Regions from separate parts of the Homo sapiens genome. Here region 2 is linked to region 1. Evidence: fine-mapped expression QTL. A gene starts in region 1. The other region holds a variant in brackets. All regions are shown on one strand. Distances are from middle to middle.

Region 1 (15,607 bases):
TGCACCTTCCCAGGGCCCTCCCCATGGTCACAGCAGTTTGCTTATGGAAACACAGTGGAGAAGGAGAAGCCAGGGACAGCCTGGCTCTGTGGCTGCCCCCACTTCTTCCCCACCACGTGGGGCAGCAGCAGGCACAGAGGATCTGCGGTGGTCGCCACCCTCTGCATACCCGCTGCCCGGCTCCTCAGGCCCAAGCCCTCCATGCTCTTCCCACCACTCGGTAGGCACAGGGATGAGTTCAGACCTCCTGGCCTCCGCCCTCAGGACCCTCTCCCCACAGGCCTCTAGGGCATCTATAGAGGGCAGGGACCCCATGCCCCACAAGCTACAGCCCCTCCCACAACACCAAATGCAGCCAGGAAGTTGGGCAGGACCAGGACGAGCCTTCTCCCAATCACCCAGCAGGCAAGCTGGGCCCCTGGCACCATCCCAACACCCAGACACTCCCCTGCCAGGTACCCCAGGCCTCCCTGCACAGCCCTAGGGGCCACCCACCCCCAAAAACAACCACCCTGTTCACTGGCTACCAGGAGTCTGTGACCCCTTTATAGACTGAGGCTCAGAGAGACTGAGACACCTGCCTCAGGCCACACCACCAGGGTCGCAGAGCTGGGGTTCCAACTCAGACCTGGGTGACTCCAGGGCCCAGAGACGCACCCTTGCCACTGCCCTGCTGGCCCCATCTTGGGGAGCCTCTGGGCTGATGGGGTGGCCCCAGTCCCACCCTCAGGAGAAAAAGATGGAGAGCCAGGCGTGGAAGATAAAGCTTGGAGCCAGGTCGCCTGACACTTCTTCCTGGTGAAGGCAAATTTGCGGGGGTCGGGGAGAGGGGGCCCTAGGGACGAGAGCAGGAGGGGCCTTTCAGCCTTGCTCAGGGCAGCCCCCACAGGCTAGGTCAAGCGGCTGGAGGACGAGGGCTTTGTGGAGGCCACGTTGGCGGCAGGGGTGAGGGTTTTGAGGGCAGAGCCGGGCTACAGCCGTGAACCGAAGCTATGAGCTGGGGAGGGAAGATGGGGACAGGACATTTAGGAAGAGCTCCCTGAGGGCACCAGGCAAGGGCCAGCATGCGGCACCTCCGCCAGAAACAGAGGCCAAAGCTCAGGCAACACCCATCACATGGGGTCAGAGGCCAGCGCAGGAGGGACGCAAGCACGACCATCCCAGGTCCAATGCAGCGCGCTGAGCTGAGTGACCTGGCGCCGGGCCAGGCGGGACTACACATTGCCATCAGCCCCGGGCACCGGGCTGGGCCACCCACCCATCCCCAGCCCTACAGCTGAGGCCTGGGATGCTGCTGGGGTCGGGGACAGGTGGGCTGGGGAGTCTCCACGGAGCACAGTGCAGCCCTGCGGAGGGCCTCGGGCCACCCCAGCCCACGGGTCCTGCCTAGAAGACTCCATCCTGGAGAGGCAGCTATGGCCAGGGCACGCCCGTGAACGAAACGGAGACACTGTGACACTGGAAGGAAAAGTGACCCTGAGCGCCGGAAGAAGCAACAGTGACGACGCAGCCCAAGGACTGTTCACAGGCGGGAAACTGAGGCCCCGCAGGACAAGGACACACCGTGGTGGGGGTGGCAGCCTCCAGAGCCTGCCCTGAGAAAGTCTCACCAAGCACAGTGTTCACCCCAGCAGGAAGGGAGCAGCGTGGGTGCAGAGCTCAGAGGCTGACGAGGGCTGCCCATTCCTGGGCCAGGACTTCCAGAGGCCAGACCACCCAGCCTGGCTGCCACCAGGAACCAGGGAAAGCCCAGCTGACAGCCACTCCCCCCAACAGCACAAGCTCCGCTTCCATGGACCAGATGAACAGGCTGAAGCAGACACGACCAAGGCACGGTCAGTCCACTTTTACTCTTACTTATTTACTCATAGCCCACACTGTCTTGCACAAAGATTGTGCGGTGGCTCGCAGGAACTACAAAATATAAGCTAAAAACAAAACCATGCAACTACAGTCAGTCATAACTGGAACAAAAAGAATGACCCGTTCCCATTAGAGCAGAAGAAAAGTCCCACGCGGCCCAGAGCTGAGCAGCACATTTGCTGTGAGCTTCCTAGCAGGCAAAGGAAGAGAAGAACTAGACTTTCTTTGTTACTTAAGGGAAAAACCAGCTCTTCTGATTCCCAAATAAGAGATCCTTCCAGGGTACTTAAGGGAGCTTTGGGAAGGCCCCAGTCCCATTCCCTTAGCCCACTCCAAACCCTCACAAGCCCCTCCAGCAGGACTCTGAGCAGCTGAAGGTTTGGGGGTAGCCTGCAGTCCCCCTCCTTCCCTGTCCTCTACCTGGCAGCAGAGAGGCAGTGAGGCCAGCGGCCACAATCCCATCCCCACCCAGCCCACATGTGACCACGGCCAGACTCCCCCAGAGCACGTCCCTGCCCCGACATAAAGCTTGTACCCCGGAAGCCGCTAGGGCTCCATCTCTGCTTCTGGCTGGTGTTCAGAGGACAATGGTTCACATCCCTCAAGCTCAAGTCCTCCCCCAAATGCCCATCCTCAACCCCTGGGACCCCAAAGAAGCAAGAGAGACAAGACGAGCACAAGGACGTGCCCTCCACCCATCACATGCTGAACCACAGGGAATCCCGGAGGCAGCACCGCCTGTCCAGGGAAGAGAAAGCCCAGGTCCCACAGAGGCTGCACAGCGAGGCTGGGCCCACCCAGGCTTCCTCCCTCCCGGCCCTTCCCCAGGCTCCCTCCCCAACAGTAACTGGGAGCTCCGAGCTCCACGGCCTCCCGAGCAGAGCCCTTCCTGGTAGAGTTAGCCAGTGCCCCGCCTGCCAGCCAGGGAGCCGTGCCCCCTCACACCTCCCCAGGCTGCCACCAAAGCCTGTGACACCTGGGCTCAGCTGGGAATGCTGCTGATGCCAGGCACCCCACCCTGCGGATCCCCGAGGCGGGTGCCACTGCCAGGCACAAAGGTGGCCCTGGCAGCAGTGGAAGCCGGGCCAGGCTCCAAGCAGCGAGGGAAGGTGGCAGCCCCAAGTCTGGGGGCCCAGGGGCTCTGACCACAAGTGGCGAGCATCCGTCATGGGACCACTCGGGCGCAGCTCCTACCCTCCCAGGACCATTGCCTATTTGGGGGCAACAGACCTGGGACCCCCAAATCACAGGCCTGGGGGCTGTGGAGACAGAGATGCCCCCATCCATCCAGGGGGCTAAGAGGGCTTCCTCGGACAAGTGACAGAGGAGGAACGAAAAGCTGGCAGGAGGAACGAAAAGCTGGCAGGAGTCACCTCCAGTCAAACCAGAGAGGCAACAGGAGAAGCAAACAGAAGCCCATGAGCAGCGTCCAAGGAGAAACAGGACTCGCCAAGCCACACAGAGCGGTAGGAGGGCTCCCAGCCTCAGACCATGACAACTGATTCCCTGTACACAGGGGCCACCCGGAGCTTCGCCGGGAGGAGAGTCCAGAGCCACAGCCTCGATGGGCAGCTTCCCTCACTGTTCAGCTGCGTGGCACCAGCAGGCGGCACCAACAGTGGTTCTGGAGCTCTTGGGGGCATAAGGATGAGGCCCCTGCCTGGATAAGCAAGAGATGCACGGGAGCTAAATGAGAATTGATCATTTTCCCCATCGGGGGCGATAATCAATTCAGCACCGGTACTGACGCTTCAAATGTCACGGGGTCTCAGGAGGAGTCAACACCTCACATGACGTGTCTGTCAGCAGCTGGAATGGATCCCCAAGCAGGGACCCTCTCCTTGAAGCAGGGAACCATCCTTTGTGGGGGAGGGGGATGGTCATCCTCCATGGGAACTGTCATTTTGAGGGGCGGATAGCCGGAATCCAGCCCCAGCAGTCCCGGGGGTGACCACCAGCAAGTGGGGTGTGGGAGGAAAAGCCTGGTCATTCAGTCATTCAACAAACACCTCCAGGTGACCCGGACCCCATGCCTGACCTGGCAGAGCTCCTGCTTGTGGGGGAAACCAGGACTGGGGTCAGGGAGAGGGAAGAGGTCTGCCACAACAGTTTGCGGTGGTGGGTGAGCATGGGGAAGCGAGGGGGGCCTTAGATGTGGAGAAAGAGGGAGGCCCCAGCTTTGCCTGCTGAATGGGAGGCACCAGGCTGCAACCTCCCACAGGGACATCTCAGAGTTGGGGGCACCTGAGAAGGGGCCCCTGAGGCCAGAGCAGGGACACTGAGGGGCCTCCAGCCCAGGGAGGCCAGGGGGTCTTGGGATGAGGACAGCATCTATGGCAGGGCAGACAGAGCAGCCCATTAGAGAAAGGTCCCTGGAGGCCACAGGAGGCCAGGCCACAGGGGGCCGCTCCAGGCCATGGGGGTCCTGAAGTAGTCAGCCCGGAGACAAGGCCTGAGGACCCTGGTGAGAGCAGAGGGCACAGTGTGGGGACACAGTGAGGAGCAGGAGCCACGGCCAGAGTCCCATCATGGGGCTTCCCCTCCACACCCAGGGCCAAGCACCCTTCTCAGATCAGGAAAGACAATCCCCTGGGGCTCCAACAGGGGCAGGAAGACAATGTCCCCCTCCCCTACGGCCCCAGACGGGGCACCAGAGCTCAGAAAGGTGGGGAGGGCACAGTCTTATCCATGCCACAGGGATGAGGTCCCCAGATAGGGGACCATGGTCACCCTCACTGCCCAGACAAGGGAACTGAGACAGGCTCAGGCAGACAAGAGCACACAGCAAGGGAGAGGTAGGCCGGGAACCTGGGCTCCAACAGCCCCAGGGACTCGGAGTCCCTAACTCAGCAAACAGCAGCAGCAGCTGCCAAGGTGAGAGTGCATCCCTTCCGGGCACTGCTCTACGTACCTATGCAATGGGCACAAAGACGGTCCCATGTCGCAGAGCAGGAAACAGTGGCCAAGAACTCTCGGGAACCTGCTCAGGGGAGCTGCCTCCTGGCAGGAGGGTGGGCAAGGGCCCAGCAGGGGATGAGCATAGGCAGGACCATGCAGGCATCGGGTGTTGCTAAAGAGCAACACATTCAAGGAGACCCTGGCAGGCTGGGCCCGACCCTCTACGCCTCCCTCTACAACGGAGACAGGCAGGGAGACCCCGGCAGGCTGGGCCCCGACCCTCTACGCCTCCCTCTACAACGGAGACAGGCAGGGAGACCCTGGCAGGCTGGGCCCCGACCCTCTACGCCTCCCTCTACAACGGAGACAGGCAGGGAGACCCTGGCAGGCTGGGCCCCGACCCTCTACGCCTCCCTCTACAACGGAGACAGGCAGGAAGCCCGGAGGCGAGGGCCTCTAATAGCCAGGCCGGGTCCCAGCAAGTCTCTCCACTTCTCTGGGCTTCTGAAGATCCAAGCATGAGACAGATGGATGATTGTGAAGTTCCCTGTAAACAGCTATCCTCAAGGAAGCTCATCTCTCCCCTAAAAAATACGAAACGGGCCCCTGGGGAAATCCTAGAACACCAACCCTAAATACCCCTTGCCACGTTGGCCTTACAGAGCAGAGGCCAGGGCCCACTGGACAGTGCACCAGACTCCGGGGAGCACACTGGGGTCTCCCTGGCCACCCCAGAGATTTCCCTCCCAACCCAAACACAGAAGCAGCCATGTCCACACATCTGGGCCCAGCGGGCCAGGCCAGGGCTGCAGGCTGCAATTTTGCTGGGACTCTGGGGACAGCCCAGGCCCGCACAGGGGACAGGACAATGACACCCGTAAGGCCCCAGGATGGCAGGTGCAGCCCCCCATGCCCTGTGGAGAGACAGTGGAGGATGGGGTCTTCTCTCCCGGGGGCACAGCACCCTGCAGGTGGGACAGCACTTCACAACAGGCCCCAGGTGACAGAGGAGACCACAAAGCAGAAGAAGGGGGCCCAGAGCAGAACAAAGCCCTGGCTGAGACCAGCCCGGGACCCCGGTGTGCTGAGTGCCAGCGCCAGCTAGGGAAGGGGGAGCCCCCAGCTGGCACTCAAGAGGAGTTTCCAGTGTCAAAGGCCAAGCTCAGGGGAGGCTGGAGATGGGTGGTCTGGGGCTCCCCTGAAGACCTGTCTGCCAGAAGAGACCAAGACACCCCCCTAGATGAGGAACCTAGAATCCACCAGGGACTAGTATCACCTGCAGCCCTCTCCACTAGGACCCCTGGCCTGCCCGTGACCAGGAGCCCCCTCCCCTCCACGAGTCCATGCCAGGACCATGGCCCCAGGGCCAGGCAGCATCAGCAGTCCAAGCCCACTCCAAGAATGAGGAGACCAGCTCAATCTTAATGCCCCTCCTGTCTCTGGCGTGTTTCCCCTAATGGGGCAGCAAGATGGGCCTTTAGCTCTGGCTGGCCCTCTCCAGGGGGCCCTCAAGGGTCTCCTGCTACCTTTTAAACTAGATACAGGCCACTGGGGCACAGAGTATGGCCAAGGCTGCAGCCTGTCCAGAGCAGAGGACAGGGCGGGTCCAGCCCCACCCCAGGACAGGCCCACAGGCGCCTGGCCTGAGCCAGAGAGAGGCTACAGCAATCCTATCCCTCGCCGAGACTCCAGAGAGCCCGGAGACGGTGCCCAGGACAGAAACCAGACTGGTACCCTGCCCCACCCTGCCCTGCCCCAGACAGGGCAGTCAGGGTCTCAGCTCACTCCAACCCCCACAGCCCTTAGAGAACTATATTTAGATTCAATGGGGATTATGCGGACTTCCCAGGAACTCTTTCATAAAGGCTGAAGGCCCGGCAGCGGGCTTCCTCTGGAGACCCCCACCCGCCCCCAGCCTTTGCAAACTTCCAGCATGCATTGTTCCTGGAACAATGGTCCCTGCTCCCTCCAAAGCCGGCAGGCCCACTGGCTGGAAATCCAGGAGAACCCCTCCCCTGCAAGCACCTGCCCCTGGGGCTGGAGCCTGGGGAACCCAGAGGGCCCCGACTCAATTCCCCATGGGCGGCCACTGCCTCAGTCTATCCCAGGAGGTATGGGACAACAGTTCTTATCCTTGAGGCTGGGAGAGGAGTAGGCAGGGACCCCCCAGCTGCTGTGGCCCACCCTTTCACCTGCCAGGCCCCCCGGCCCCAGGTATGTAATTTCCAGACACCTGGCTGGGGGCCCAGGTGCCCCAAGGGCCACAATGCACCAAATAACCTCTCCCTGCTGGTAGGGCTGGAGCTGTCCCGCCCTGGGTGGAGTCCCTGCCATCCGCTCTCTCCCCTCCTCCTCCCACACAAACCTGCGTTCCAGCTGTGGGACATCTGGGCTGGGGGAGGAACGCCAGCCCAGGCCCCTCCCATCCGAGGCAGCAGGGCCCCTCGGGCTGAGCTCCCTAGCTCACACATGGTGTTACAGACCGGGAAACTGAGGCCCGCAGAAGGGAAGTCCTGGCTGATAACTCTTTGTGGAAACAGCAGCAGGGAAGGAGTGGAACCCTGCTTCCCTCCAAGCCCCAAGTTCTACCCAAGTTCGGCGTGGCCCTGCTCGGAGGGGTCGGCCTAAGGAAGTGTCACTTACCCGGAGGGTGGTCCCGGGCCCGCTGACCAGCTTCCACGCCTGTCGCTTGAGCTCCACCAGCTTCGTGTGGCAGTGGCGGCACCAGCCGCCTCCGCCGGCCGAGTGGCCCTGCTCTGGGCCGGCCCCGGCGCCTTCGGGAGCAGGGCGGCTGCCGCATGGGTCCTGGTCGGGCCCGGCGGGTAGCCTCTTTCGGGGGGACACCTCCAGCAGCGGCGGCGGCTCGCGGGCCGGGCCGCCCTCGGCCACCTGCAGGGTGTGGGGGCGGAAGCGGACAGTGAGCCTGGGACGTCCGTCGGATCCAGACCCCTGCGCGCCCTGCCCCAGCGTGACGCTCTTGCCAAAGTTAGGAGCCCTGGGCACGACCCTGGCGCTCACCCACTCCCTCCATCCCCGGAGGTCCCGCCTGCGGGTCCGCTACCCTCAGCAGGAGGCCCGGCCCCCAGGGATCCAGCGCACACCGCGAGTATCTTCGCCGTCCCGGGCCCCCGCCGCCCGCCTCCCTCTCCAGGCCGGGCCGCGCGTACCGCGGGCTGCGCAGCGCACAGAGGGACGCCGCGGCCGACCATGGCCGGGGCGCGGGAAGAGCCCGGCAGGCGCTCCCGGCCACGCTGGCTCTCCGGGGGCGCCGCGGCTACGTGATCCGGCCCCGAGGCGCCCCCATGGCCCGGCCCAGCCGCTCGGAAGTTCGCAGAGCCTGCGAGTGTCGCGAGGAGCGCGGTGGCTCCGGTGGGCGCGCTCGGGAGGCGAGGGCGGGGCCGGGGAAGGGCGGGGCTCGGGCTCCCGGGGCGGGCGGCGAGGGGCGGGAGCCCAGAGAGTGCCCCGCCCTTGCCCAGTGCTGGGCGGCGCGTGGGGGGGGTAGGGTCCCCGCTTCCCCACGCGGCCCCGCGCACTCCAAGGACCCCAACCTGTTAGGTGAGTCCCTGCCCCGGGGAGGGGCGCTGGGGGCGGCGGCGAGGATCTAGTTGCGCGCGCGCATGCGCCTCCCGCCCCTCTCCCGGGACACCAGGGCTGCGCGTCTCCCAGGAGGCGCCGACGCCCCTCCCTCTACAGGCGGGAAAACTGAGGCTGCGGAGGGGACGCTCTTGCCCAAGGCCCACGGCGAGGTGGGCCGAGGAAGGGGCGGGACCCCGGCCCCGAGACTCCCAGGCGCCTTTCCAGCAAGCCCAGCGTACTCTGCGTGTCGCGGGCCACTTTAGGTCTAACTGTCGCGCGTGGGTTAGTGTCGCCGCGGTGTGCGCCTCGAGCCGGGCAGCGACCGCGCCGGCGTATCTGTGCCTCGGCGCGTCTGCGAACGGCACGTGTCTTTACAGCCGCGCGTGTGCCCGCAAGTGGGTGTGCGCGCCGTGCCGCCCGGGAAGCGGGAGGTCCTGCGGGCGTGCGCCGGACCTGTTGTCAGCAGGCCTGGCAGATGGGAACTCAGCTCCGGAATTAATTGCTTGTTTGTCTCCGGCTGGGAGGCCGCCCCCCCGCCCTTCCCTGGCGACCAGTTGCTCTGTGCCTAGCCGGGCCCCAAATGTCGCCGGCATCCGCGGCCGCAGGCAGCTCCGGGCCAGGCTCCGGGTCAGCCCCAAAGCCCGGGTCAAGCCAGGCGGGCGCGGCGGGCGGGCTCCCCGTGACGCGAGTGCCCCCTGCCGGCCGCTGCGCACACGGCTCCGAGACTGGGGAGACAGCGCCGCGCGTCCCAGGCCTGAGGCGCACTCGGAAACTCCGAAGGTCGTGACCCGGCGGAGACCAGGACACGCGGCTGCCGGCACATACGGTGAGGCCTTCGCAGAGACTCAGTACGTCAAAGTGACCCTTTCCGTTTTGCCCACCCCCTTTTACTTGGATAAGCCTCCCCGCCCACGCACGCACTCCCCAGAAAGTGGGGTGGGTGATCCCCTCCCGGCTTTCCGGGTCGTTGATGACCTTAGGGGTTCGAAAACGCAAGGGGGTATGGAATAAAGTGGCAGGGGCTCTCCACTCTTTCTGAGATCCGTAAGCCTGCAGTCGCTTTCCACCCAGCCTGGGGGGCCGGAAGCGCTTCCCCTACCCGTCTCTTCGCAGCCTGGAGAATGAAAACGGGCGTCAGCCCACATCTGGATCTGGGTACTGAGGACAACACCCAAACCCCACCCCGCACTGCCGGCAGACAGCACCGCCTCCCGCCGCTCCACTGCTCCGGGACACACACTCTCTATATCCCGTCCCCCCACCCACACACGCAACACAGAAGCACGCAGCGGTCGGGAGCACCGGTCCTGCGCCCCTGGCCAGCCACACCCGCAACTTCAGCGCTTCTACCGCCGCGGCGCTTCGGGAAGCACAAGCTCACATCCCATATCCGCAGAACACGGGGTGCACAAGGCTGGAGTCACCTCGGGGGCTCACGATCAGTCAGGGGCCCCGACCCCCTACTTCGCCCATCCTAGCAAGGCGCAAGGTGAGCCCGAGAATCCCTGCGCTGCGCTCTCCGCCCTAGCCACAGCCTCCGGGTGGGTCCGGTTGGGACACAGCCTTGAAGGCAGAGGGAGACTTGGACAACGCTAATGGGGGAAAGTGCGGCAGCGAGTCCCAGCCCGGGCTGCGGGACGCGGCTCCGGACCTGCCGTCTCCTTCCCGGCGCAGCACCCCCGGCCGCGCGAGCCGCGCGGCAAAGTAACGGGACGGCGCCTACGCCGCCCGCCCCCCTCCCGACAGCCCTCACCTTGCCTCGTCGCCGCAGGAGGTGGCTGGTGAAGCCCAGGATGATCTCCGAGTCCAGGCAGAGCGCCCCCATCTCCAGCAGGCTGGGAGCCTTGCGGGGCGCGCCGCGGGGCGGCTCGGGCGGCTGGGGCAGCGCCATGGAAGAGGGAAGCGCGGGGAGCGGCCCCTAGTGCCTCCCGCCACCGCCGCCCCGCCCGCGCGTTCACTGGCCGCGCGCCCGCCGCCGCCGCGCCCCGCACCGCGCAGGGCCGCCCGTCAAGCCCCCGGTCCTCCGCGCCCCGCGCCCCCGAGCCCTGCGCTCGCTCCGCGCCGCGCGCCCCCGCGCTCCGGCCCCGCCCGCCTGCGCCGACAGCGCCCCTTCCGCCCCGGCGGCGAGCCAGACACCAGCCACGCGGACTGGAGGTGTGGGGCGACGGCCCCGCGCGCCACTGGGCGGAGGTTGGAAGCCAGAATCGGGTCGCGGTCCGCGCCCACCTGCCTCGCTAGCCCCCAGACGTCGGTGTCTACTGCCGGGTATCCGGCAGGGAGAGGGCAGCGCGGCTGCTGTAAAACCCTTCCGACTGGGGCATAATCGCAGCCCCTTCCCCCTCCAATCTGTCCTGAGGACACGGCGCGTTGGGGTCCTGGCCCATGGAAACGCTCAGAGCCCAGTGACCTGTGCACTCCACCCCGCCCACGCTCCAGAGCCCCCGTTCAACCTTGGCCTATGGACCTCCAAGGCCCACCCCAACCGGACCACGGAGCGTGCGCAGCGGGACCCGCAGTCTGCGCCTCCACTCCAGGATCCCGATTGTGCCGCCACCCGTGGCCTTCCCTGCCCCGACCCCGACTCCCTGAGGGCTGGAAGATTCGGGCTGGCTGCCGGGCACGACGACTTTACTTTCAGGGTCCGAAGCTAGGGGCGGGGGTGGGCGCTCTGCCTGGGTGCAAACTCAAGCCCGGGTCCCGCGCTCCTCCTGTGGGCTGCCCCAGCCTCGCGCGCAAGTGGGTGAGATGCCTGGCTTGAGGGAGGAAGGGAGAGGATCAAGCAGGCAGAGAGGTTCGCCTAAATGCGCTAGGCCCACGCGGAAGGTCTTTGGGAGTTAAGGAAGTGTCAGGGACCCTGCCCAGGGGATATTAGGCGCCTTGAGCAGGACCTGGAAGGTGGACAGGCGAGGGAAGGAGAACGTTTTCAGCGGCGCCAGCGCGCACCTATGGCCTGGCTGGGGTGCTAAGGCTGGGCTAGACTTTCTGTGCTCTCTGCCCCCTGCACTCCTCTACTCTCCCCTGGGAAGGACCATGGCCACGCCCCACAACCCCACTGCTCCGGCGGCGCCGCAAGGCCGTCCTGCTCCCCCGGTCCTTCCCCTGACTCCCCCCAGTGGAGGCTGAAGGACGTTGTCTCAACCTGACTCCAACCCAGAGCCCAGCACTGCCATTTGTCTCCAACAGAATCACCATAAACGCTGGATTTGCTGACCACATGGCCGATCGTGACCACCTGCTCTGTACTCACCCAGGCTTCTGGTCAGGAGAGAGGCGGGGAAGAGCTGCCCCCTCCCTGCGTCCACCATCACTCCTGGCCTGGGATCAGGGCAAGTTATAAAGGGGGCCAGAGTCCCCCCTTTCTCTCTGTCCCTCTCCAGGAGGACACTCTGGGGACCACCCACCCTCCTCCCTCCCCCACAGGAAGGGGACTGGGGAAGACTGTCCTCTTCCCCCATCCTGTCTCATCCAAGACCCTGAGCCTGGGGCGGGGAGGGGGGGGCTCCCTTCAGCGGACCAAGGGCTTCTGGGAGGCCACCCGCCATGTCAGTGGATTGATTAAAGTCATTGTGGGGATTTTTTTTAACATTTAATTTACCAGGCACGCGGCGGCTGGTCAGAGCTGTCCCCAGGGAAATCTAGACCAAGGGAGCAAAACAGAAAAAAACCTCCTACCATTCAGCAGGGCCCCTCTGATGGGATTAATTGCCGGAACTCGGCTTCCATTCAGACCACACGCAGCAATGTTTCAGGGAGGGAGGAGGACATGGGGCTTGAGTGCTCAGATTCCTTCCCTGGGTGCTTGGAGCCCAGGGCCCTCCATACCGCCATCTCTCCCCAGCCTGCTGGTGCTGGTCAAGAGCCCCGCCCCCCACCTCTCCGCACCTTCGTGTCTTCATGTGTGACGAGGTGGACGGTACCCGGAGGCAGACCAGTCCCTCCAGAGCCCACCCCACCCCCATCCACGTCCCTTCAGTGTGCAGGGCAAGAGCTGGGAGGCACCCCAGACACGCTCCCACGGAAACTGAACACTTGCCAGAGGTGTCTTTAGTAGTGGAAACCGGCTGGGTAGGAATGGCCAATCGTCTCTTCATCCTTGGCGACAGTGGATGGACGGCAGGTGGACCCGGGACAGGGACGGGCACGCAGTGTGCGGCACAGCCCCGTTGGCCTTTGCAGAGAAGGTTTATGCTTATGAAGGCGGGGACCTTTCCTGGGACAGACACAAGCAACAGGTAACGATTGTTGCCTCTGGAGAGAGAGTAGGAGTGGGGTTCGGGAGAGGTTTCACTTCCATTTTACACCCCTCTGCACGGTTTTGACTTTTGTGGGGTTTTTAACCATCCTGTTTAGCATTTAATAAAGAGATAAGGAAGGGTTACAGGGCCTAAACTGTCCACAATAAAATTATACAAGGCCCATGGCCCTAGGATCACACCTGGCATCAGACAGACCCTCATCCTCTCCAAGAGTTGAGGGGGATGGAAAAAACCCTTCTCCTCAAGGAGGCCTCGGGACACTCCCCACACGTTCCCAGGATTGACCAGCTCCCTGGGCTCCCTGCTCACCTATCCCTCCTGGAGGCCAGGACCATGTCTGGGGTGCAGGAGAGAGGGTGCCTCAGGAAGGCAGCCACAAGGGAGGCCGACCCCGGCTCAGGGCAGGGCCTCCTAGTAAAGCGAGGCCCCTCGTCCTCAGCACCAAGGGCAGGCTTCAGGTGGTCACTGCACCAGTTCTTCAGAGGGTGTCTGAGTGCTTGGGGGAGGGTGGCCGGCCATGGGGTTTAGCTGACACCCACCTGTTCTCCGGACCAGGCTCTGTCTTACGCACTTGGTAACATCCACTCATTTAATCTGCCCAACAGTGCTAGGCACGGGTATTGTATGATCGCCGTTTTACAGATGAGGAAATGAGGCCCAGAGTGGGGAGGTCAGTCTCCAGGTTTCGCCCCAGGAGTCTGTGCTCCTAAGCCCTGTGTTTACAGCCTCCTTCCCTCTTCCCCCAGGGCCCAGCTGCAGAGCAAGGGACCCCAGCCCTGGCCTCGGAGCCAGGATGGAGCACGAACAAGGGTGGTCAGCTCTGAACTGAGGTCTGGGAGCCCAGCCAGGATCCCACGGATCCTGGCTAAGGGTTTGCTGAGTAGGGAGAGACTGGGGATGCTCGCTGGTCAACAGCTGATGGCTCCACAGACCTCACCCTGTGCCAGAGGAGCCCCAGGTCCAGCACAGAGGGACAGCCTAGGACGCGGCTTCAGCACCTTGGCCAGCACCAGGAGGGGGCTTCTGCAGGCGAGGGGAAGGGGGATGGGGGAGTGTCCTGGGGTGTCAAGCTCTCCATCACTCATTTGCTCATTCACTCTTTCTTTTTTTTTTTTTTTTTTTGGAGTCTTGCTCTGTCTCCCAGGCTGGAGTGCAGTGGCACAATCTCAGCTCACTGCAACCTCCGCCTCCTGGGTTCACGCCGTTCTCCTGCCTCAGCCTCCTGAGTAGCTGGGATTACAGGCGCCCACCACCATGCCCGGCTAATTTTTTGTATTTTTAGTAGACATGGAGTTTCACCGTGTCAGCCAGGATGGTCTCAATCTCCTGACCTCGTGATCCGCCCGCCTTGGCCTCCCAAAGTGCTGGGATTACAGGCGTGAGCCACCACGCCCGGCCTCGCTCATTCACTCTTTCAATTCAGTCATCCTGGAGTCGTCCTTGACTCCTGCTTGCTCACGGCCCCCGCAGCCCATCCATCAGGATCTCCTGTCCCTACCACCCTAATGGAATGTCAGCCCCTGGAGGGGGTTCTGCAATGCCATGCCTGCTTCACCACAGCCGCCAGGTGAGCCTTTAAGAAGGCGGTGGGCTCCTTCCACTTCTCGGCCCTGGCTGACTGACCCGTCTCCTCCCGCTCTGCACCCCCTACGCATTCTGCTCCAGCCCCAAGGGCCTCCTCGCTGTTCCCAAACGTGCAGTCACCCCCATTTGAGCGTTTGCTCCACTGTTCCCACTGCCAGGGGGCTCTTCCCCCAGACATCCACATGCCTGACTTTCTCCAGGTCTTTTCTTTTTTGAAATAGGGTCTTGCTCTTTCGCCCAGGCTGGAGTGCAGTGGCGCAATCACAGCTCACTGCAGCCTCGACCTCCCAGACTCAACCGATCCTCCCACCTCAGCCTCCTGAGTAGCTGGGACCACAGGCACGCACCTCCACTCTGAGATAACTTATTGATTTTTTTGTAGAGACCAGGTTTCACTATGTTGCCCAGGCTGGTCTCGAACTCCTGGGCTCAAGCAATCCTCCTGCCTCAGCTTCCCAAAGTGCTGGGGTTATAGGCGTGAGCCACCAGGCCTTTTCTAAGCAAAGTGTTCCCTGCCCACCTTACCTAAAATGTCAGGCCCTTCCTGCATCCTGCAGCTTTGCCCATGTTTCCTCTCCCTCCTTAGCACTTACCAGGAGCTGACTTAGATGTTTCTTACTTGTCTAGTTTATTGTCCTTCATCCCCTTTAGAATATCAGCTCCATGAGGGCAGGAAATGTTTGGTTGAGCACCTGGCACAGCACTGAAGCTCATTCACATTTGTGGAAGAAATAAAGGAATGCATGAACCCCAGGCTTGTTCTCTGTGCCACCAGGTCCTGCTGCATTCCCCCTGCAGAGGGGCTCCTGTCCTTCCTATCCCAGCCTTTCCCGGCCCTGCCATGCCCCCACCCTATATTCTGCTCTGGCCACCTCACTGGCCCCACCCTGGCTCCTCTCACCCCCCACCACACTGCACCTCGAGGCTGCAGTGCCAGACCCCACCCTCAGGATGCCTTGCCCGGGTTCCCACAGCCCAGCCCTAAGTCAGCCAGGTTGACCTCATGGGACCTGCAAGCCAGTGTGCGGCGCCCAGCTGCCCCAGCCTGAGGACTCTTCCTGGGCCCAGGTGGAAGCATTCCTGACCTACCTGCACCTTCTCTGTTTCCTGGGAGGACGTGTGTAGCACCAAGTGGCCTCCAAACCTTCCAGCCAGTGCCCTCCCCACCAGGGTGGAGAGCCCTGGCCCCAAGCCCAGCCTGCAAGGCCCGCAGCCTGGATCTTTTCCCGCCGTGCTTGGCTCCCCTCTCCCCTCCAACACGGGATCTGGCTGCCTGAACCTCCCTCCATGCCCACAATACCCAAGCCCTGGCAGGACTCCAGAGTCTCTACCTCCCTCAGCCACATCTCGAATGGGGACACTGTCACTTGTGGCCAGCAGATGGCACACTTTGGCCACAGTTTGTGGCCAGAGGACGATTAAAGCACTCT
Region 2 (15,607 bases), 37 kb before region 1:
GGACCTTGCCAGTGCCCGGCACAGCCCAGCAAGATCCTTTCCTGCGCCCACTCCCCTAACCCCAAACCCGCCTCAGCCCTGGCCATCCACCATCAGCAGCTGCGTGGCTCCCCGTAGGCTGCCATTTCTCCCCACCTCAGCTGACCCTGACCCTCCCCTGTGAGCCCCTCCCATCCTGCCCCTGCACACTCCAAATCCGCCCCCCTAATCCTCAAGGAACACCTGCTGGAGGCTCAAGCAGCCCTTGCCCTCTCAGGGCCGCAGTTTCCCCAAATGTCCCGGAAGCAGGAGGCAGAGGCTCCCTTGCCCTCTCAGGGCCTCAGTTTCCCCAAGTGTCCCGGAAGCAGGAGGTGGAGGCTCCTTTGCCCTCTCAGGGCCTCAGTTTCCCCAAATGTCCCGGAAGCAGGAGGTGGAGGCTCCCTGCAGGCTGCATTGGTGCCGCTGCCTTAGCTTCAGTTTCAGTCAAAGAGCTGGGTCCGGGGCGGCTGCCGCTTTCCCATCCATAAAATGGGTGACTCCTACTTGGGCCGCTCCCCAGCCAGCTTTCCAGCCCCTAATGACAGGGCTGAGGGCTTTGATGTCCCAGATGAAAGGCCGCCCCAGCTCCTGGGCTGGCCCCAAGACAGTGGATTCCACGTCCTGTAAAACAGGCACTGCCCTCTGAGAGCCAGGCCTGAACTGTGGGAAATGGGCCCGGCCTGGCCTGCCCAAAGGCCACCATCCCCAAGGCCCCAGCCACGCCAGCCCGGCAGGCAGGAGGACCGGGGTCCAGACAGGGAGGACGGGGGTCCAGGCAGGGAGGACCGGGGTCCAGGCAGCGAGGACCGGGGTCCAGGCAGGGAGGACCCAGGTCCAGGGAGGGAGGACCAGGCTCCCCAGCAAGAAGCAGGCTCTGGACCCCTCCAATGACAGAGGGATGGGGAGGGGGCAGGGTGTGCTCTATGAAAGAAAGGGACCCACCCAGACACGCCTCAGCACCCACCCATCCCCTGCAGGTGAGCAGGTACAGGGCAAGAAGGGAGCAAGAGCCGGCACCCCGCAGTGGTCTGGGCTCTAGGGCAGCTCCCCAGCCTCCCTCCTGGGACCAGCATCACCCCGGTCCCTGAGAATGAGGTACCCTGACCCACCCAACCCCACTCAGACCCCAGCACTGTCCTGGATCCCATGGACAGAGTGCCTGGCCAGTGCCTCTGTGCAGGTCAGGGGTCACAGCCAGCTGCACCAGGTTTCCAGGACACAGGCCTGGTGGGCTTCTCAGGCTCTCCTGAGAGCAGGGTCCTGAGAGGATCACCCCTCCACACCCCAAGCTCCATCACACCCCACCCGGACCCGACCCCCTCGCCAAGTTCTCCAAACCCAGCACAGAGCCGGCATGCGTGGCCCTCGGCTTCTCGGGAACAACCCTGCCCTCCACATTAGTCTGAGTTTCTGCTGGGACGCAGCGCTGGCCTCCAACAAAAGCAGGGCTGGGGCTGGAGGATCAGGGGCCCCAGCAGCCTCCCAGGCTGGCCTGCAACCCCAATCCCAGAGGCTGGAGTCCCAAGGGCCACCTGCGATGGACACTAGGGGCCTGGGTGCGGGTGACCCTGTGGCCTGACCTGGGGGGCCCTGTGGCCACACGAAGGACTGTGTCTGTGTGGGACCACAGTGCAGGGCCGGCGGGAGGCTCTCTGCAGACGGCTCAGAGCTGTCCTGGACCTGCTTCCACCGCAGCCGGAGCCTCTTTAAGGGGATGCTGTCATTCACGTATTCTTTTATTCCTTCTTCAGCCAGTGTCTCCTCAGCCCTGCTGGGCCTATCCCTGTGCCCAGGATCGGGGAAGGTGATGACTCAGACCCCGCCAGGCCGGGAGACAGGCAGAGACCGCACAAGGTGTGACGTGCCATGGCAGAGAGGCCTAGGAGCCTCCACCAAGGAGGGGCCCCACCATCCCCCGCCTGGAGCCAGGGAGGGGCACCTAGCCGGGGACAGGGGGAGTCCCCAAGGGAGGGAGGGGCTGCACAGCCAGCCTCTGGGCAGGGGATCACAGCACGGGGGATGGTGGGGCCTCATGGCCAGGACCTCGGGTTGAAGGTGGAGTGGAGCAGCTGGAAGCCAGTGCAAAGCCGCAGAAAGGGGCAGGTGCCCAGACACAACCTTCGCAGGCCAGGCAGGCGGGGGGTACTGGCATGGGGACAGAGTAACAGGCTTAAGGAAGCAAACTAGTTCCGCTGGGGACCTACCAAATGAGAAGCAGATAGGACTCCGAAGAGGCCAGGAGGCAACCAGAGCAACAGCTAAGGTGGCCCCAGAGGGCACATGTACAGGTCAGGTGAGGCCATGAGCTCACAGCAGTCAAAGGGCTGGGGATCCCCCAAAGGGTCTGGGGCCTCTGACCACGGGAAAGCCCAGCAAACTGGGGTCAAGACAGACCCAGGCCTGAGTCCTCCAGGGAAGAGCCTCCATCCAGGCTGCCCCGGGAGGGGGCTCTTGTGGTTCGGGGGTCCTGAGCCCATGAGCAAAGGTAGGCAGAGGGCAGAGGATGGCAAGAAGACTCTGGGAGGGAAATGCTGCCATCACTCCTGCCTCGACTTCCCCACACAGCATAACCCAGAGACAAGGGAGCCAGGGGCCGCTTACACAGGGCTGTTTCCCGCCAGCCCAGCCCCCAAGCCTGGCTCCCTGCCCCAGCCTCGGGACCCTAAGATCTCAGCAGAGTCAACAAGAAAGCAGATCAGAAAGGAAGCGTGGGCTTGAATCCCAGCTCTGTCGTGTTCCACCTTCTCTGAAGGGCCCTCATGGCACCGTGGGCCCCACAGGGGCTGCAAGGCAGGCCCTGGCACAGCACCCGAAGCCCTGGGTCCCCGTGGATGTGTCCTTCCCACGCTTACTGCCCGTCACCCCAGGGACCCTCAGAGGGCGGCACACCAGGGCGTGAGGAGTCTGCCGACGCCCAGTGAACTCGGCAGCCGTGGGAACCATCGATGCATCTTTAATTCACAAATAAAAGCTGTAGCAAGATGTCATCTACACATTTGTACAAAGGTTCAGACGTCCTATGCTATGCACGATCCTCAGAAAGTATGAGCCTGTCGTGCGGGGACGTCGCAAACGCTGGCAGGCTCACCCCTCGTCTGCATTTGGCAAGAAGCGCCTCCCAAGGCCCCCCCACCCTGCCCAGGGTGCCCCCCAGAGGGAGCAGGCCTCCCACAGCTGGAGAGAGCCCGGCCCCCAGAACACCTTCCCTAGAAAACCATAAAAACATAGATCATTTGTCTTCAAATTCCCACGGCAAATTCCGCATTTATGGGCAAAATGATATAAAAATATGAACCTAACAGAACCTTTACAAAACCCTACCCCCCATCTTTGTTGTTGGTCGTGGTGGTCTGTTTTGTTTTTTGCTTGTGGTTTTGGTAAAAATTCCTGCCGTGGAAGAGGCAACCTGTACCTGGGGCTCAGCCCTTGTTAGCTGCCCTCGGGACAGAGCGGGTTCTCGGGAAGGGAGGGGACTCGAGGTCAGCCATCCCTGCCCGGGAGACCCCAGGATGGATCTGCGTTGAGAACCCCACACAGATCCCCCACAACCCGGGCTCTGCCGAGAGGAAACCATTGTAAAAGAAAAGTCATCCTGAATCCTGAAAGACCCCTGGGGCGTGCAGGTAAGTCCCACTCCACTCCACAAAAACTGCTTGGCTGCAAAGAAGGCAAGGTGGACACAAACACAACCGGCGCCAGCCCCGGCCCGGACAGGCGCAGCGGGGCCGGGCTGAACACAACTTCTGCTGGTGTCTCAAGTCTGTAGCACCAAATGCAAAAGGGAGAAAAGTCCAAATCAAGGTCAAAGGCACTTGCGTTGCTGTCGGGTGGTGACGGTCTTCTGGTCACCCTGGCACCCTCGCTCTGTCCACCGCGTGGCCGGCCCTCCCTCCCCCACACTCCGTCTCCTCTCTGAGACTCCCGTCCTGCACAGAAACCCCTCCGCATCCTCCCCCCGCAGCCCCCACCACATCCTCGCTCCGTCCCACGTCCCGTCCTCCAGCCCGCTGCACGCCCCCTCCTCTTGTCCGGCGCCCAGCCTCAGACGTCCACCTCCTGCGGCCCCGGGATGGCAGCACTGGCTGCAACGCTGATGTCGAAGCAGGTGACCATCATGACGTGCGCCTTGCACAGGTTCACGCACTGCTCCAGGGCCGCCGTGGCTCGCTCCAGGGCCGCCAGGTACTCGGCCGACTCGGGCTCCAGCTCCGGGTCCACCTCAACTGGGGAGGGGAGGAGAGGGGAGGGGCACCTGCGTCAGGCCCGAGGCTGGGGGCAGCCACCTGGCCCCCCAGAGGCCCCAGGAAAGGCATCTTGGCCCGGCCGACCCTGCCTTCCAGCCTTCCCACCACGAGGTACAGGAGAGCAACAGGGCTCTGGGAGGGGAGGGCAGCTGTCAGGGCACACGGTGGGCCGGGCTGGGTCCGTGGGCGGGCGGGACTCACACTGCTCCAGCCAGCGGCCAGGCTCCAGCATCAGCCGGCCCTGGGTCTCGGCCAGCTCCTCACACAGGTGCTTGTGCTTGGCCTGCACCTCCCGCAGCCGCTGCTGCCTGCGCTCCGCCAGCCGCAGCCTTGTACTGACGCACGCCAGACCCTGGGAGGCAGGGCGGGCGGGGGCTCAGGCATGGGACCCTCTCCCCAGAGACCCCCAAGCAGCCCTGATGTGGCCCCCGCCTCCCTTCACCTGCCAGGCCTTGGCAGGCACACAGTGGGGCTCCAAGGGCGGGCAGGGGGCGGACCTGGGGCAGCCCACCCATGCCCGTCTGGGTCCTGGCTCGGCTCTAGGACCACCCTCCCCACGACAGGGGAGAATTCCAGCGGACAGCAGCAGTGGCCTCAGGACCCCCCAGCCACCCACCCACTGCCCAAGGGGAGTGTCGGAGCTGCAACAGGCTTGGGCTGGGCAGGGCCGCTCCTACCTTTGCGTCCTGGGAGGAACGTGGACAGAAAGTGAGGTCAGGGGCTGCCCAGCCACACCCCCAGAGGCCTGGCGAGCCCATCAAATGGCTCACTCTGCCATCCGCGGCAGGCTCCCCACCAGGGGTCATAGACCCCAGCCCACCAAAGGCCCTACCTGGGTGGGGGCCTCCCTCGGGGTGGGGCGGGGCCGCTGAAGGCGCTCCACGTCATCGATCTCGTACACCTTGATCTCGAACGGCTCCTTCAGGGAGCCAGCCAGGGGCGGGGGCAGGTCCACCCACTGCCCGGGGAGGCTGGGCTTACGGCCCAGGGCAGTGGTGTCGGGCAGTGGGGCGGGAATCAGGCGCCGCCGCTGCAGACCTGGAACGGAGAGCCGGGCACAGGGTGAACAGAGGCGGGGCCCAGCCCAAGCACAGCCCCTGCGGGGACGCTGCGGAGCCGGCCCGAGTCCTGACAGGGAGGCCTTCGGGATCCAGTCCAGGAATCCTCAGGCTGGCGCTCTGCCCAGGGCAGGGAGGAAGCCGACCCCAAGCCAGGCCCACAGCTCTCAAGGGCGCCCCCACCACCACCAGGGCCTCCCACTTTCCCTGCCATGACCTGAGCAGTTCTGTCCCTTGGGGCAGCCCTGGCGGGGGCCTTCCAGGCAGCTCGACACTCGCCAGGGAGGCACGAGGCCCGGGACCCAAACCCGAGTCCAGTGCCCCAGCCTGGCGACCTGTGCAGGGCTGCCCTTGTGCTCACCCAGACACAGACCAGGATCAGCCCCCCAGGGCAGGGTGGGGCCAGAGAAGGGCAAGTACAGGGGGTTTATAAACTGCAGAGGGCCGTGCACCTCCACACACAAAAAGCCCCAGGCGAGTCTGTAAACCGTCCACGGCTGTGTGGGTCTGGGACCTTGAAGGCTGTGCCCATCTGTCCAGCATCTCCTGGCCCTGTAAACTGTAGAGGGCTGTGCACATCTACACACAGAAAGCCCGTAAACTGTAGAGGGCTGTGCACCTCTGCACCCACCTGTGGCCCTCTTCTTGGGGGACTTGAGGCTGCGGGTGCGGGCGCCTGGGGAGGCAGCCCCACTCTCGCTCATGGAGTCAGGGGCGGAGGAGGCGCTGCCGGTGGCCTCGCTGTCGCGCCGCAGGCTCTCATAGCC[A/G]CTGCTGCCACCGCTGTGGTGGAAAAGGGCGGTGCGGCCCATGGCGGGCGGCAGCTCTCCACTCAGCACGCTGCTGTTGTCGCTGCCATGGCCGCTGCTGTAGCGCTGGGGCCGCCGTGGGGCGGTCACCTTGCTGTAGGGGGAGGGCAGGGCCGGGCCCGTGGGTGGCCGCTCCTCCCCCACGTTCACGCCGCTGTCATGGCCGCTGTCTGAGTCCGCCGAGCCCCACGAGGAGCCACCTCGGCCCGGGGCTCCACTGGCTGACAGCTCATGGACGCGGCTGTGAGCAGCCCGGAGCGCCTGCTTTGTGCCCATGACGGTACCCCGGCCAGCCTTCGCCCCGACACTGGGCCCGGCCCGTGGGGCTGCTCTGGGACCGGCCACAGGGCCGCCAGGGCTCCTGCCCGTCACAGAGGCCGTAGACAGCTTCACCGAAGGCCCCAGAGCCCGCGACCCACCAGCCACTAGGCCACGGCCCTTGCCTCCACCAACAGGGGGCTTGGGGGCCCCCACAGCCTTGGCTGCGCCGCTCCTACAGGCGGGAGCTGGACCGTGTGTGGGGCTGGAGGGTGGCACACCCAGCTTGGGTACAGCCCGGGGAGGCCGCCCAGGGGCTTCCCGGCCCTTGCTGCTGCTGTGCGCCAGGCCTTCGTACCGCTCCAGAGACGCGTGTCCGGCAAGACGGTGTGCTGCTTCTACCTTGCTGGCCCGGGCCTTCAGGCTGGACGTGGCCCTGGGGACAGAGTGGTCAGCCCGGCTGCTGGGTCTGGGCTCCTCCTCCCCTCGAAGGACAGCAGCAGCCCCGACCCGCGCCGGGTTCACAGCATGCGGAGGGGCCGAGGCCGGGCTGCTCCTCTGCTCCAGGCTGGACTTCCGCGTGGGTGGGGCCGGGGGGGCCGCCCCACTGGGCCTCGGGAGGAAGCCCGCCTTGGGAGCCAGACCCTTCTTGCTGGTGGGGGAGGCCTTCAGGCTCCCCGAGCAGGCCACCACCTCCGTGGGAGCATCTCCCCAGGACACAGCTGGCGTTGTCACACCCAGCGTGGTGGCACCCCTCCGCAGCGGTGGGATCCGAGCCACAGCCTCTGGCCTGCGGGCCGCCCTGGCTGCCACCTCACACCCGTCCACCACTCTCTGGGCACAGGCTAGCATCACCTGGGCCTCAGGCAGCCGGGGGGAGCCAAGTGTGGGGCTGGGGGCCCTGCCAGCAGAAGCTGCCTGGGTATCACACTCCCCTACCCGGAGCAGCCATGGGTCCTCAAACAGGCCTCCACGGCCAGGTGGGCTCTGGCCCAGGCGAGCACAGCCCACACGGGTGGTGGCAGAGGCAGTCCTCGGTTTCCGGGGGAGGCTGGAGTGGATGGTCTGGGCTGCGGATGCCCACCGCGAGGGCCCGGCCTGGGGCTCCCTGCCGGGTCGGGATGGGGCCACTGCAGCCACTTCCCCAGGGCACGGACCCCAGGTTGGCCCAGGACTGTCAGGTCTGTCTGGCCCCAGGAACCCAGAGCTTCCATCCCCCAGGGAACCATCCAGGGCAGGGGGGCCCCCAGGGTCAAGCCCTGCCAGCGAGTCGGGGCTGAAGCGGGGCTGCGGCGTGGGGTCACGGCTGTCGGCAGTGCAGACGCTGACCTCGCTGAGCCAGGAGCTGATGGAGGAGCCGTGACTGCTGCCGGCCCAGGCTGCCCCCTCCAGGGGCCCCCCCTCAGGGGCCTGAGAGGTGTAGGCGTCAAACTCATCATTGATGCTGCTGATGATGCTGACTGGCCGGGACCCCGAGGCCAGGGCCCGCAGGGAGCAGTCACTGTCGAAGCTAGCCAGGCTGGTGGGCCGCCCAGCTCCGGCAAGCGCCCCCAGGGACAGCTCCTCCACCACCGTGAACACCAGCTCGTCCTCGCCGTTGAGCTCCACTGGCCGCTGCAGGGTCACTGTGGTGGTGAGCAGGCCCCGCTCCGGACAGCGACTGCCAGCAGCCAGGCGGGGGCAGGTGGCCCCAGGAAGCATCGGGGACCCAGCCACCTGCCCACTCATGCCCACGGGAGGGGTCCGTGCCACTCCATCAGTGCCCCCTCCCCCAGGCTCTTCTGGGGCTCTGCAGGCTTCCAGCAACTGAGGAGGTGGGGGAGCCGGGCTGGGCAGTGGCCTCCTGCCTCCACTCACTGCAGCCTTTTCCGGGACCAGCAGCTCAGGCCAAGCGCTGCTGTCCTCTCTCTGGTCACCCCAGACAATGGCCTTGCAGGGCTCAGGGGTACCCTGGTGGGTGTCTGGACCAGAACTGCCTCGAGGGGTGCTGGCAGCCATCGGGGTGCCCACGGCCTTCCTGGGGGATGCAGCCTCTGGTGGCGAGGGCTTCCGGCCCCCTCGGGCGGGGCTGGCCTGAGCTCCGTCGGTGCCACCTGGACCTCCTGAGGGACCCTCGTTGCCGTCCATGCATTCCAGCCGCTCCTGCAGCTCCGCGAAGGTGCTGCAGCGGAAGTGGTCTGCGTCTCGGGGACCCTTGGAGGGCCGGTGGCGGCTCAGGGCAGGGATGATGGGCACGAAGTCAGGCGGACCTTCGTTGTCGGTGAGCTCCCGGTCTGACAGCGCCGCCCCACCGGGCCCCACGTAGATGACCGTGTCACAGGACTGCTCGCTGCTGGAGGAGTAATCGGGGTCACCGGGCAGGCAGGGAGGCGTGCGGTCGGGGTCCAGGGCCACAGTGCGTGGGTGGAAGGGCCGCAGGTGCGGGGGCCGACGGGCCCGGCCTTCCTCACAGGAGCTCTCCCCGCCAGAGGAGCTGGAGGCGTACTGGGGGAAGAAAAGTGGAGCTGCCGAGCCCAGTCTCCCCTACACGCCCCCGCTTCCCCGACCCTCCCCAGAGCACAGGGCCAATGCTGCGGTCACTGTGATGAAAACTACAGCAGGCACCACCAACCATGTCCCACCAAACGCTGGGAGCGGAACTGAGTCTCAGGGGAAGAACTTAAGTGACCATTCTTAGCAACTTTACAAGGAAAACGGTGTCACCCCGCGCTGGGAGGGAACGGGAAGCTCAAAAGACAAGCATGTGTGCCCAGGCCAGTGGCCAGGACTCACACCAAGGGCCGTGTAACCCCAGAGTGCCCCAAACTCCACCCTCCAGCCCCAGAGAGGGGTCCCTAGGAAGCCCCTGCAGAGGTGGTGCGGCTCTCCTGAGCACCCCAGGGCCTGTGCGGGGGCAGCAGGCTGGAGTGAGGCCACCACAAGCCACATACAGCAAGCCCCGATTCTGCCCACTGCAGCCAGGGACCTCAGGCTGGGCTCCCCACCCCCCAGGGAGGGCCACATGGGCATAGCCTCATGACATCAGAACACATAGGACATCTACCCAGGCTCCAGGCCACCTGCTGACCCCCACCCCAACCAGGCCAGCAGAGGCCTGCAGTGGACACAGGAGCCGAGACGGCCCCGAGATGGGGCGGGCAGGAGGTGGGGAGCACCTTGGCCTTCTTCCTGCGCAGGCGGTGGATGCGGGCGGCGAGCTGCACGGTGCTGAGTGTCTCTGCGTGCTGGGCTGGCGCATCCGACACGTGGGCGATCATGGTGGTGCGGCAGCCAGCGGTGGCCAGGGATTCACGCAGCAGCATGGTGAGCCTGTGGTCCCTGCGGGTCGAGGCGGTTCAGATGCCAAGGCCTTGGGAAGGGAGCTTCGGGGACAGGCTGGCCAAGGGCAGCCCTGGGATCAGTCTGGTTCCCACCCAGCTCCGGCACCAGCCCAGCGTGGGGCCCCAGGCAGCCCACGGGCAGCGAGGCCTGTCAGGTGGTGGAGGAGCAAAGCCCTGAGGAGCTGGGGGCCACAGCAGCACCGGGCACACCAGACACGGATTTACCAGGTCACCAAGGGGCCACCCTGGTCGGCACCTGCCCAGGCCCTACACTCACCGATACGGCACATGCTTGGCTCCGTTGACCAGGGCCAAGATGACGCTGCCCAGGGCCGACAGGGACAGACACAGGGGACCCCCAGCAGCCTCCCCGGCCCTGCCAGCCGCCGCCTCACAGCTGCCCAGGTCGATGAGGTGCAGGCGGCTGCGGCCTCCGGACACTGGAACCACAAGGCAAGCAAATGATGGTGTAGCCAGGGGCCCCCAGATCCTGCTCCACATCCCCACCCCAGGCCCAAGCTGGGGACAACCCCAGGGACATCCCCAGGAGCCACTGGATGACAGGCCCCTGTGCCTGGGTCTCTGCTGACACGCATCCCACAGGGGCCCGGGAGTGCGGGTGTGGCACCTACTTCCTCCCCGGCCGCACTTCTCCATGCGGTACTGGTAGACGTGCAGCGTGAACAACATGTGGGAGCTGCGTCGGGCGTCCTCGCCACAGCCCGCTCGGCTGGTGCTGCGGGCCGCCAGGGCCGCATCCAGGTAGAAAGCCGCCTTCTCGGCCGTGGGTGCCCGCAGCTCGCTTTGGTTCTGGAGCTGCAGGAAAGGCAGAGGCAGCGGCGTCTTCAGTGGCTCAGGGCCAAGTGCAGCCCCCCTCCCCCAAGGTGGGACAGTAGGCAGGCGCACCTGCGCCCCACACACGGGGTCCTCCCGCAGGTACACTCCCGGAGACTGGGTGTCCTGGAGGCTGCCAGGGGCCACCTCGGCCAGCAGGTCCCGCAGGCTCTGGTCGCGCCCGCACACCTCCACGGCTGAGACCCGGACGGAGAAGCGGGTGCCCGTCCTCTCCCTGCGCTCCTCGATGAGCCTGAAGAGCCAGGAGATGGCGCAGGGCACGATGCCCAGGCTCTGGGGTGAGCTGTCCTTCCCGATCATGGTGTACGACTTGCCTGGGGGCCACGCAGGCGTCAGGCCCCACCACACACCACGCAAGGAGCCTTTATGGCTACTGGCGTCCCCGGGGGCCAACCAGGGGCACCGAGATCTCAGGGGCCTCTTTGGATCCATCCTAAGCCCTCTGCCTTTCAGTTCGGCAGGGGTTCAGCTTCCTCTCCACAAGCCCCTCACCCCATATGCCCACCACGGCCCATGTGTAGGACCAGCCTCCTTTCCCATCAGAAGCTGCCAGCAACCACCGTGATGAGGATGGGAGGGGGTGGCCAGCAGGACCCATCTAGGGTGGGGCAAGGGTGCTTACCCAGGCTCATGTGGCCAAAGGAAAAAATGCAGCCATCAGCCCCACTGACCACCGACTGGAGCACGTCGGCCACGGTCCCCGAGCAGACTTCGGCCTAGGGGGGCAAGAGAATCAGGCAGGGCTGTGGCCCCTTCCTTCTGCCACGTCTGTGGGCCTGAGGCCGGTCTGTCCTGGCACATGCAGGCAGTCGACCCACAAGGAGATTGGGCTGCACACCTGGGACCAAGGACAGATCCCATGTGCACACGGAAAGCACAGAACACACATGAACAGGACCCAGGACACACGTAGGAGGGACTGGCCAGACACGTGCAGACACACACCCGCAAAGCCCAGAAGTCCAGCCGCCGGGCGCAGGGGCAGACCACCACGCGCAGAGAGACGCACACGCAGCCACACGGTGCACGGCTCAGCATGGGCAGGGAGCACCGGGCGCCCCCAGAGCCCAGAGCCCAACAGCTGCTCGGAAAGCTTCCCGGGAGGGCGGGCTCCGGAAAACCAGGCCTTTCCCTGTGGACTTGGCCCAGAGCCTCGGCAGGGGCGGATGGAGACACCCAAGGACGCTGGCCAGGACGATGAGGGAGGTAAGCAGGCAGGCGCCGCAGGCAGCGGGCCCCTCGCTCACGCTTCCTCTGCGCCCTGCACGGAGAAGCGGGCGCAGATCGGACCCATGTGCTGAGCCAGCAGCCCGGCTCCGGGTCTCCGGGAGGACGCCCAGTCCGCCTGCCCGTACCTGCTCGGAGTCCTGGGGGAAGACGGCATCGAAGGCAAACATCTTGGGAACTGCAGCAGTGGCGGCTCGCCGGGGGCCTGCGCTGCCTGGGGGACCGGCGGCGGGATCGTAGAGGATCACCTGCTTCTTCCGAGGGTCCACCTTCAGGAAGGACATGGCCTCGGCCGAGCGCTGGGCCCCCTGTGCGGGCCAGATCCGCAGCATAACCTTCACCTGGGGCAGAGGTGGGCGGCACCTGAGAAGCTGCCTCCGCCCAGCCGGCCACTAATTACAGGGCAGGAGGGGCCCAGCTCAGGTGGGGACAGCGGGCCAGGCCTCACACTGGCACCCCCACCGCAGGAATGTGGACACCGCGCCCCTGCTCCAGGCGAGAGCAGATCCCATATGAGGTCAGCAGAGCAGGGAGAAGGTGAGGGCCAGGGAGAGGCAAGGCCGGTGCACAGCCTGTCAGCACCGAATGTGCGGCACAGAGAATGAGGGGGCGGCGGGCTCCGGGCGCCTCCGTGAGAAGAGGACAGCCGCTCAGGTCCTGCAGAGCAGCTCAGTCCAGGAGAGGGCAGGAGGGAGGAGCATGGCCCCCTGGCCCAGCCCTCGCAGGCTGCTCCCCAGGCTGAGGGGGAGCACTTGCAAGATAAGGGAATGAACTGCCCCACAGAGGTGTGAGAGCCGCAGAGGGCTGGCGCTGTCAGGGGAGCCATCCAGGGGCATGGCTGCCTCCGACCCTGGCCAGCTGAGGGAACCGAACCCTGGCACCCTGTGGCCTGCCGGACTAGAGTCAGCAGAAAGCAGGGGGAAGCCCATTCGAATGCAAACGGGGACGGGCAAGATAAGAAGGATCCCATCCAGGGGAAGATACAAATTCTGACGCCTCGGCCTCACCGGCCCCACTGCAGGCTTGGGGAGACTGAGGCTGGGGGGCAGGCTGAGGGTGGGTTGGGCTTCCAGACTGACCTCCCGAGCCAGCAGGGAACCAGGCAGCCCTGGTGCTGGGCAGAAGCAATGGCGTCTCCAAAGCACACACACAGATCTCAAACTGGGCCACATACAGGCACCGGACTCGGGAAGACCCTGACACCAGCCCCAGTACCCTGAGAGGGGGCAGACGCCGGGGAGGGGCAGGACCCAGGATGCCGGAGCCCAGAGCAATCACTGCAAACACTCCGAAACCCATCCACAGCAGGGACACCCCACACAGGTGGGTCTGGTGCGTCGATGCCAGGAGGCGGCGGCTCTGACCCGGCAGAGGCTGCGCACACGAGGGCCACCCTGAACCAGGGCTCCAACGCAGAGCCAGAGACAGGCCCCATTTCCTGCTGGAGGACACCACAGTCCACTCTGCGCTGAAATCTCTGATTTCTCCACTACAGCGTAAATCAAATTACCCGAGACTCATTTCAGAGCCAATATTTTTCACGGATTTAATTGTAAGTGACAGATACATAACGCCGGCAAAATTGGTTTACCATGGGTAGTTCGCACCAGGCGGCACCTACTCCCCCTGGGCATGGGGCACATTGATATGCAAGCCGCTGGAGTCGGGAGTGCCCGCTCTCCGGGGAGCAGCATGAAGAAACACTTTTCTATTGTACTACTCAGAACCTGGGCTCCATTAGGCAAGAATCGATTCTTTTATTCCCCCGACGACGTGATCAAAACTATTTCATTTCCAGACGCCACCACAAAGCAGACGAAAACGTGCACTTCCCGGTAATTTTTGGCAATTTTTTTTCCAGTGTGAACTCCTCACCACTTCAGGAGCCAAATGGGCTCTGCAGATTTGAGAGACTTCCTAGCGGGAAGGAGTGGCGTGGAGAGGCTCACGGTTTGGCTCTCTACGTCTGCCGGCCACCCTTTCCACCAGCGGCATTAATCGCAGAGCGGGCTCACAACCAGGAGGAAGGGGGGTGTGGGCCTCCCCAGGGAGGGGATGGAGCAGCCCACAGTGGGGGCACCGCCCATCTAGCCTGCCCCACACTGCCCTGGTCCCAGCGCAGGCCATTGTCTGCCGAAAGAGAACCCTGTCATTACTGCAGGGAAATGACAGGGTCTTTGCAGGAAAAGGCACAGCAAGCCTCTCCCCTAAATGTTCAGATATTACAAAGCCCCACGGAATAGCTGCCTGGGAGAGAAAAAACACATTTTGCATTAAAAAAGGGCTTCCAGCTCTGAAGAGGTAGCCCAGGCAGGGAGGGGGAAGGGCGCTGCTCAGCACCCACCCAGACAGGGATGTCTTTTTTATACCACACTGTGATGAATTATCTTAAGTAGCACATTAATGTCAGAAATTGAACGTAATCTAACTTCTTTTCTGTGACAATATTAAACGCCTTTCAGGCGGCATTTCTGACTATGTGACATTAGTGCTAATAACACCCGGGGAGCTGGGGGGTGTGCAGGGTGGAGGGGCTGGAAGGCTGGTGACCCAGGGCTCCTTGTTGCTGGGGAAGCACTGAGCACTCCGGAGCAGGGTGGGGGTGTGACTGCCATGGAGAGAAGGGAGAAGCCCGGCCAAGGCTGCCCCCAGGAGGAAGTGGGGCAGAAGCTGTCCCCTAAGAAACGCGGGGCGCTGGGAAAAGTGTTGCGGGCTCCTGAAGGAGCTGCTGACTCCTCTGCCCCCCGCCCCAACTGGATGGCACAAACAGGCTGAGTGCCAGGCCCAGGCCAGAGCCAGGGCCCCGATCCCAGGCTGGGCGGGGAACCTGGATGCTGCCTGCCCACCACCGCCCACACCTGACCTCGGCGTCCTCCTGAGCTCTCGGCACAGCTCTGCAGCCCACGTGGCCAGGGCAGCGGCAGCCTGGCCCCAGCACCCACCTGCCCTGTCTCAAGGAGACTGTTGAGGGTGGGGAGGACCCAGGGTGCCCCAGCCAGCCAGGCCTGGGCCCAAAACACAGGCTGATGCCACTGGCCTCGCATCCCAGGGGACTGTGGAGAAACAGCCCGTGCCGGGCACACGCACAGAGATCAGGAGCCCCCTTGTTCCCCGCAGACCCCCAGCAGTGCTAGGCAAAGAGATTTCCAGGGAGGCAGTGACCCCCGGCCTAGTCCCCCAACTCTGCTTCACCCACCACCCCCGCCTCACCCCAGGCAGGGGCCTTGCCCCAACCCCAGCGGAGCAATGACAAGTCCCTGATCCAGGCCACACAGCTTCCCCTGCCCCCGGGCCTTGGATGCAGAATGTCGCCTCCGGAGGACAGAGATGCCAGATGCCCGCCAAGCCCTCCTTACCACAAACGGAAACCAGTGCCCAGAGGGACAAGCGATCCATTCAAACCCTGGCAACTGGTGGGGTGCTCGGGGTGGAGACCCAGAGTCAGGGAGATCGGGAGGCTCCTGGTGGTCTCACCACACACTCCCCTCTGGACACCCATGCAGCTCCAAGGTGCCAACTGCCTGATGCCCCCACCCGGACCCGCCATGGCCTATGAAGATGGTAAGAGCTGTCAGGTCTGCCCCACAGGCCGCCCCAGAGCCCCTATGCCCCACGGCGGCCCTCCCTAGGGACCCACCACTGCCCCAGACCAGTAGCCACCGTCAATTCAGGCCAGGGCTGCCCTGGAGAGGTTGGAGGGCTCAAGTCACGAAATTAGCGTTCCAGGGGCTGCAAGTACAATGCTCGCTACATCACCGGGCGGGCAGGGGGCACAGCCCCCAGCAACTGCACCACTGAGGGCGTGGCCAGACACACAGTCA

Alleles and levels. Alleles are on the strand shown, and positions count from the first base shown. SD is a standard deviation of normalised expression in the study named.
For the expression in testis of the gene that starts at base 8,106 in region 1, allele G in region 2 goes with a higher level than allele A (small effect, 0.15 SD a copy in GTEx).

Evidence for each region. PIP is the estimated chance that this variant, and not a neighbour inherited with it, causes the effect. A credible set is the group of variants that fine-mapping cannot tell apart.
Region 2: its variant is the best candidate, but not a certain one, in a credible set for the expression of KIF26A in testis (GTEx, PIP 0.86).

What each region holds. Positions count from the first base shown.
Region 1 is chr14:104,131,086-104,146,692 of GRCh38, reverse strand. It overlaps KIF26A (kinesin family member 26A), which reads right to left and starts at 8,106. Exons shown (of 15, transcript NM_015656.2): 1 at 7,929-8,106; 2 at 7,405-7,650. The coding sequence starts at 7,970. It overlaps KIF26A-DT (KIF26A divergent transcript), which reads left to right and starts at 8,064. Exons shown (of 3, transcript NR_158217.1): 1 at 8,064-9,163; 2 at 9,451-9,826; 3 at 11,521-11,910. RefSeq lists a silencer at 8,938-9,107 and enhancers at 8,804-9,515, 9,516-10,227, 10,514-11,087, 11,696-12,195.
Region 2 is chr14:104,168,243-104,183,849 of GRCh38, reverse strand. It overlaps KIF26A (kinesin family member 26A), which reads right to left. Exons shown (of 15, transcript NM_015656.2): 6 at 11,915-12,127; 7 at 11,182-11,275; 8 at 10,611-10,873; 9 at 10,337-10,520; 10 at 9,982-10,144; 11 at 9,540-9,702; 12 at 5,952-8,868; 13 at 5,095-5,300; 14 at 4,464-4,614; 15 at 2,956-4,241. The coding sequence ends at 4,060. Among named protein-coding and RNA genes, the nearest start is that of KIF26A-DT, 37 kb to the right of the region's middle. RefSeq lists enhancers at 4,120-4,654, 11,433-12,146, 14,288-15,000. The variant A/G (reference allele first, on the strand shown) is at 6,088.